Homo sapiens: one gene and its partner. The protein of the gene in region 2 purifies or fractionates together with the protein of the main gene of each other region. This does not show direct contact. Each region holds a gene or a part of one and is shown on either strand. Other genes may lie near its edges. The genes, in order: PTPN23 and CHID1.

Region 1 (3,813 bases), on a different chromosome or scaffold from region 2:
ACTTCAGGTCAGGAATTAGAGATCAGCCTGGGCAAAAGAGCAAGACCCGTCTCTACAAAAATAAACAACCTGCTCCCCACAACCTTCAAGGATTTTCCTCTGGCACCTCCCAGGGACAACCAGCCAATAGTACTTGGGAATTGCTGCTCTCAGGTATCAATGCCTATCTACATTGTCCCTACTTTCTCTACTAAGACTCAGCCGAAATGTCACTGCCTTGAACATTAGCTGCTCTTCCGCTCACATTCCAAACATGCCTCCAACATACTGTGTGCCGACGGCAGGGTCATGCCAGTGACCCCAGCCTCAAACAATAAGCATTAAGGAATGGTAGGGGCCTTATCAGATGTGTTGTATACTCAGCAAATGATTGCTTTTACAGGAAATGCAGAGGACAGATGAACACGAAAAGGAAACACTCAGAAAAATTCAGAAAATGGGGCAACAATGAACCCACTCTCTTCAAAAAATTAATGTCATGTAAAAGGAGGGGGTTGAGCAGTGGACTATTCTAGATTAAAAATGATTAAACAGGTTGGATATGGTGGCTCAAGTCTGTAATCCCAGCACTTTGGGTGGCTGAGGTCAGAGGACTGTTGAGCCCAGGAGTTCCAGAGCAGCCTGGGCAACATGAGACCCTATCTCTACAAATTAAAAAAAAAAAAAAAAATTAGCTGGGTATGGTAGCCCACGCCTGTAGTCCCAGCTACTCAAGAGGGAGAGGTGGGAGAATCAGCCTGGGAGGTTGAGGCTGTGGTGAGCTGTGTGCACACTCCAGTCTGTTTCCAAAAATAATAATAATAATAATAAATAAACAAATAAATAAGTGATTAAAGGGACAGAACACAACTAAATGCAATATGAGAACCCCAGCTGGATCTGAGTCTGCAAAAAAAAGGAAAAGTCATAAAAGATAGGGGAAAATTATTGTAGATTTTCTTAGGTATGATAATAACATTGTGATTGTGTAGAATGTCCTCACTCTTAGGAAACACATGCTGAGATGTGTCCGGGAAAAGTGATGTCCAAAACTTACTTTCAAAGGGCTTGTGGGATCTCTCTCTATCTATCTATCTATCTGGAGAGAAAACAAATAAGGTGAAATACATCCATCAAAACTAGGTAGCCGGGCACAGTGGCTTATGCCTGTAATCCCAACACTTTGGGAGGCCAAGGCAGGTGGATCACTTGAGGTCAGGAGTTCGAGACCAGCCTGACCAACATGGTGAAACCCCATCTCTACTAAAAACACAAAAATTAGCCAGGCATGGTGGTGGGCACCTGTAATCCCAACTTCTCAGGAGGCTGAGACAGGAGAATCGCTTGAACTCAGGAGGGGGAGGTTGCAGTGAGCTGAGATTACAACACTGCACTCCAGCCTTGGCCACACAGCAAGACTCCATCTTAAAAAAACAAAACAAACAAACAAAACTAGGTAACACACTGGGTGCAGTGGTTCACACCTGTACTTCCAGCACTTTGGGAGGCCGAGGCCAGAGGATCACTTGACCCCAAGAGTTCAAGGCCAGACTGGGCAACATAACAATAAATCCCATCTCTACAAAAATTTAAAAATGAATCAGCCAGGTGCAGCGCACATCTGTAGTCTCAGCTACTCCAGAGGCTGAGGCAGGAGGATCACTTGAGCCTAGCAGTTCAAGTCCAGCCTGGGCAACAAAGAGTAAATCCCATCTCTAAAAACAAAACAAAACAAAAATACTAGATAGTGAGAATTTGGGTGAGCACTGAATTATTCTTCCAATTTTTCTATATGTTTGAAATTTGGAAAACAAATGTCTTAAGAGTTGCTGAAGAGCTAAATGGTACCTGAATACCACTTTCCCCTATCAGTGGTTTTTATTTAGCCTTTTGTGGGTCCTTTGAGAATATGATAAAAGCCATGAATTAAATCCCCCTAGAAATTTTCAACTATGCACAAACATAAGGATTTACCAAGAACTTTAGGGAGCTGACAGGCATTTAACAATCTTCACTCTGATCTATCCAACTCCACCCCCTCTCCACTCCCTCCCTCAAAAATAATTATGACAACAACAACAACAAAAACACAACTACAAAAAGTGGCCTTGGGTTGGGCATGATGGCTCATGACTATAATCCCAGCACTTTGGTAGGCTGGGGTGAGAGGATCACTTGAGGCTAGGAGTTCCAGACCAGCCTGGGCAATATGGCGAGACCCCCATCTCTACGAAAAAAAATTTAAAAATTAGCCAGGAGTGGTGGTGCATGCCTGTGGTCTCAGCTAGTTGGGAGGCTGAGGCAGGACTGCTTAAGCTCAGGAGTTTGAAGCTGCAGTGAGCTATGATGGCACCACCTTACTTCAGCTGGGGTGTCAGAGTGAGACCCTGTCTGTATTAAAAAATAAAAATAGGCCAGGCACAGTGGCTCATGCCTGTAATCCCAGCAGTTTGGGAGGCCAAGGTGGGCCGATCGTTTGAGCCCAGGAGTTCAAGACAAGCCTGGGCAACATGGCAAAACCCCATTTCTACAAAAAGCACAAGAATTAGCCACGTGTGGTGGTGTGCGCCTATACTCTTGGCCAGTTGGGAGGTTGAGGTGAGAGGACTGCTTGACACCAGGAGTTCAAGGTTGCAGTGAACCATGATTGTGCCACTGCACTCCAGCCTGGGTGAGAGTGTGACACTATCTCAAAAATAATTAATTAACTAAAATATTTTTTAAAATGTGGCCTAAGCTATGAGGTAAAACTTGACTATATGAGAGAATGTTCTGTGGTTAACTCCCTTGCAGTAAGAGGTTTTGCCCACCCTTAGGTTAGAGAAAATGAGTAAAAGTGTAGCTCAGAGGTCTCGTGGGATAGAGGCCAAAGGAATCAGATGGACAGGAGACTCCTACATCCTAGAAACAAGGCTTCCCGTGATATCACTAGGAACATCTGACCCTGCTGTTCACACAATGGTGACAGAAAGATGCTGCTCCCACCCCTAGCAAATCATGCCTAGAGGTCACATTCTATCTGAATCTCATCTCCGTCCTCCTATAAGATCAGCAGCAGATGCTTAACTGAGAACCTACCACAGGTCAGGCACTGTGCTGAGTGCCTAGTAATCACTCCATCCTTAGAACAACCCTAAGAGGTAGACACTATTATCATCACCACTTTACAGATGAGGAAATGAGGAAACTGAGGCAAAGAGTTAGGGTATTCACCAAGGTCACGGTGCTAATAACTGATGGGGATATGACTGAAACCCAGGCATTTGGGCTCCAGAGCCCATGTTCTTTCCATATTAGACCATTCCATTTCTATTTAAATTGTTTTTAGTTTATTTTTTATTGTTTTATTTTATTTTCGAGACAAGGTCTTGTTCTGTTGCCCAGGCTGGAGTTACAGTGGTACTGCAACCATAGCTCACTGCAGTCTCAAACTCCTGGGTCCAAGTAATTCTCCTGCCTCAGCCTTCCAAGAAGCCGGAACTACAGGCACATACCACCATACTCAGCTAATTTTCTGTAGAGGTAGTGTCTTGCTATATTGCCCAGGCTGGTCTGGAACTTCTAGCCTCAAGCAATCCTTCTGCCTCAGACTCCCAAAGTGTTGGGATTACAGACATGAGCCATCACGCCCAAACTTTTTTTTATTTTATAGAGATGGGAGTCTCACTATGTTGCCCAGTCTGGTCTTAAACTCCTGGGCTCAAGCAGTTGACCCACATCAGCCTCCCAGAGCATTTCTATTTTTTAAAAATATGGTTCTTACAAACAACTCTGAAAAACAGGCACAGAAAATGAATCCCTGGCCACACAGTGAGTCAGTGGAGCAGCCAGGAT
Region 2 (3,813 bases):
CCTGGACATGCCTCATGGGGCCACTCTGCTGACAGCCCTTTCTGATGGGTGATCCTGGCCCTGGACGTGACGTCCCTCATGGGCCCGCTCTGCTGACAGCCCTTTCTGATGGGTGACTTCTGTTCTTTACAACTCTCTAGAGGTGTCAGCCGCAGCATGGGGAGGATGCACCCCTCAGTGGAGGGCCCCAATGATGGCTCAGGTGCGGGGCCCTCCCTGTTGCTGAAACTCGCTCACCCCTTGCCCTGCAGGCCTGGCCCTAATGCACCCCTGTCCTGGGTTCGAGCCTGCGTCCAGGTCCTGGACCCGAAGTCCAAGTGGCGAAGCAAAATCCTCCTGGGGCTCAACTTCTATGGTATGGACTACGCGACCTCCAAGGATGCCCGTGAGCCTGTTGTCGGGGCCAGGTGAGCCAAGGGCTCTCCCTGCCGTGCTGAAGGTGTCACTGGGCGCGGGTGGGTGTGGGTGTAAGGAGACAGAGTGATGGGGAGGGTCTCGGTCCCCTGGGGCTTCTGCCCCACAGAGTCAGAGATAGGGGCTGGGCCAGGAGCCGGTCCTGCTTGGTGCCCACCCCACCGCAGCCCCCACTGTGGTCACCACCCATAACACGGCCACACATCTGCGTGAGGCTGTCCCCACATCTGCGTGAGGCTGGGACTGAGGCTTCCCCCACCCGTCAGCCTTGCCCCACAGCATACAGGCCGGGCCGGGGCCTCCTGGGTTGAATGCTCCTCCTCCTCTCCTCTGCCCGGGAGTAATTTCCTGCTTTGTGTGTTCTTGGTATGCTCTGCGAGTGTGGTTTCTTGTTGGCATTACTTTACTTTATTTCTGGAGGACATCTTTCCTGGCTGTAGAATTCTGGCTGTCGGTTTTTTCACTGGCACCTTAAGCATGTGGCCGCCCTCTCATTCGGACAGCGTTTCACCGCCACCTCTTTCTCCTGCCTGTGTTGCTGTCCTCCCTGCTCGTAGGAATATCTTGTATTTATGGCTGGTTTTGAACAATTTTATTGACGTGTCTTCATTTTCCTTTTGCACAGTGTTCATGGAGCCTCTTGAGTCTGCATTCGTACTCTTAGCAAACTTGGAAAATTTGAGGCCAAATTCTTCAAATATTTTTTCTGTTTCTTCTCTTCTGTCTTCTCGTTTGGAGACCACAAACACTAGATCCATTGAATTTGTCCCACAGCTCACGAATACACCTTTTACCTTTTGGAATTCTTTTTTTGTTGAGACGGAGTCTCGCTCTGTCGCCCAGGCTGGAGTGCAGTGGCGCAATCTTGGCTCACTGCAAGCTCTGCCTCCCGGGTTCACGCCATTCTCCTGCCTCAGCCTCCCAAGTAGCTGGGACTACAGGCGTCTGCCACCGCGCCCTGCTAATTTTTGTATCTTTAGTAGAGATGGGATTTCACCGCATTAGCCAGGATGGTCTCGATCTCCTGACCTCATGATCCGCCCACCTTGGCCTCCCAAAGTGCTGGGATTACAGGGGTGAGCCACCACACCGGGCTGGGATTCTTTTTTCTCTGTTTTCTTTTTTTTTTTTTTTTTTGAGACAGGGTCTCACCCTGTCGTCCAGGCTGCAGTGCACTGGTGTGATCATAGCTCACTGCAGCCTCAACCTCCTGGGCTGAAGCCATCCTCCCACCTCAGCCTCGCAAATAGCTGGGACCACAGGTGCATGCCACCATGCCCCGCTAATTTTTGTATTTTTTTTGTAGAGACAGGGTTTTGCCATGTTGTCGAGGCTGGTCTCAAATTCCTAGGCTCAAGCGATCCTCCTGCCTCAGCCTCCCAAAGTGCTGGGATGACAGGTGTGAGCCCCGTGCCTGGCCTGGTCATTTCTCTTGCTGTGCCCAACCTGCCATTAATCCCATCCATCCTGAGCCCGACGTGGTCATTTCTCTCACCACCCAACCTACCGCCCGACGTGGTCCTTTCCCTCACCACCCAACCTACCGCCCGACGTGGTCCTTTCCCTCACCACCCAACCTACCGCCCGACGTGGTCCTTTCCCTCACCACCCAGCCTACCGCCCGACGTGGTCCTTTCCCTCACCACCCAGCCTACCGCCCGACGTCCTTTCCCTCACCACCCAGCCTACCGCCCGACGTGGTCCTTTCCCTCACCACCCAGCCTACCGCCCGACGTGGTCCTTTCCCTCACCACCCAGCCTACCGCCCGACGTGGTCCTTTCCCTCACCACCCAGCCTACCGTTAATCTCATCCAGTGCTTTTGTCACCTCGTGTTGTAATTCAATTTTTTTTATTTTTTATGAGATGGGGGTCTCACTATGTGGTCCAGGCTGGTCTTGAACTCCTGGGCTCAAGCGATCCTCCTGCCTCAGCCTCCCAAAGTGCTGCGATGACACGCGTGAGCCACCAAGCCCAGCCAACATGTTATAATTCTCTAGAGGCTTGCTTGGGGTCCCCTTTACGTCTTCCATGTCTCTACTAAACTTTTGCAGATTGGGATTCAGTTGTAAGAACTGCTGAGTGCCCATGTCTGCTGGTTCTGATATCAGGGTCGGTTTCAGGAGGCTGCTTTTCCTCCTTGTTTGGGGTCCTATTATGCTGCCTTCCTGTGGGCCTGGTACTCTCGGGTTGATGCCTGAGGCATTGCGAATTTTACCATGTTGCGTGCTGGGTGTTTTAGCATTTTTATAAATCATCTTAATCTTTGTTCTGGATGCAGTTGAGTTTCTTAGAAACAGTTTTAGCTGCTCACTTTTCTGGAGAACCTGGTCCTTTTTGTGGAGGCCTCGGCTGTCGTCTTTACGAGTTTTTGCAGGTCCCCCACAGGCCTGCCCTCCGTGAGGGGTGTGTGCGTGTGTCAGCCCAGGCAGGTGAGCCGAGGCCAGGCCATCACCCCTGATTCCTCCTGGTCGGCCGTGGGGAGGGGCAGAGGTAACCTGCTGGATTTGCGGGTCCTGAGGGTGGCAGCAGTGGGTAGAGGAGTATGTTGGGGCAGTGTTCCCTGCCCGGCCTCCAGGGGTGCCCTCCGTGAGCCCCTCCATGGCAGATGGCAGGTGGGCCATGTTGCAAGACCAGGGTCGTGTGTGGTGGTCCCCTTAGGGAGGCTTTCCCCCGACACTCTACGTGCACACTCCTCTCTGTCCACACGGCTGGTCCTGGGGTCCAGCACAGGCCTGGGCTCCCGCTGTTCTCTGGCTTCTGGCCCTGGGTGCGCTCTGGGTCACTGAGCAGGGCCTGACCCTGCTGCGGGGGCGGACACGAGGGGGTGCTGGCTGAGGTGGGCCTGGGGTCAGCCTGGGCATCAGGCGGGGCGAAGAGCCTGGCGTCTTCTCTCCCACGTCTCACCCAGTGAGTCATAGAGAACTCAGCCACACACTGAGACACGCGGGGCTCCGCACAGGCGAGGGCGATGCCCCAGGGCCCCTGGCTCGTTTGGGTCCCCTGTTCCTGCTGAGATGGGGCACAGGTCAGTCACTGGGTGCCAGCTCTCATGTCCCTGCAATGCAGAGTGAGGGGCCCGGCCGCCCTGTCTGCCCAACTGTCTGTTCTTTCAGTTGGGGCTGCTCTGTGCTCCTGTGTGTGCTGCACCCTCCCCCACCATGGCCCTCCTTTGATGCTGGGAATCCTGGGAAGGCTCTGGAAGCACAGCTCATGTCCCCCACCTTACCACATCCCTGACATGGTGCCTGGTTCTGGGACCTTTGGGTGGAGCCATGTACAGAGCTTGGGCTCCCAGCCCAGGATCCCCTGTGCAAAGCAAGAGGCCTCCCCATGCACCCAGCCCTGCCTCAGCTCCAGCTGTGGGCTCTGCTCACCCAGGCCTTCAGGGAAGCCTCAA

Evidence for each region.
Region 1: the proteins of CHID1 (region 2) and PTPN23 fractionate together in Homo sapiens (co-fractionation; one large-scale study listed by BioGRID). This does not show direct contact.

What each region holds. Positions count from the first base shown.
Region 1 is NC_000003.12:47,390,764-47,394,576, reverse strand, and holds part of PTPN23 (tyrosine-protein phosphatase non-receptor type 23), read right to left. Parts: intron 1-3,813. UniProt on the Homo sapiens protein: Plays a role in sorting of endocytic ubiquitinated cargos into multivesicular bodies (MVBs) via its interaction with the ESCRT-I complex (endosomal sorting complex required for transport I), and possibly also other ESCRT complexes.
Region 2 is NC_000011.10:879,742-883,554, reverse strand, and holds part of CHID1 (chitinase domain-containing protein 1 isoform a precursor), read left to right. Parts: intron 1-251; coding exon 252-407; intron 408-1,039; coding exon of another isoform or gene 1,040-1,058; exon of another isoform or gene 1,059-2,681; intron 2,682-3,813.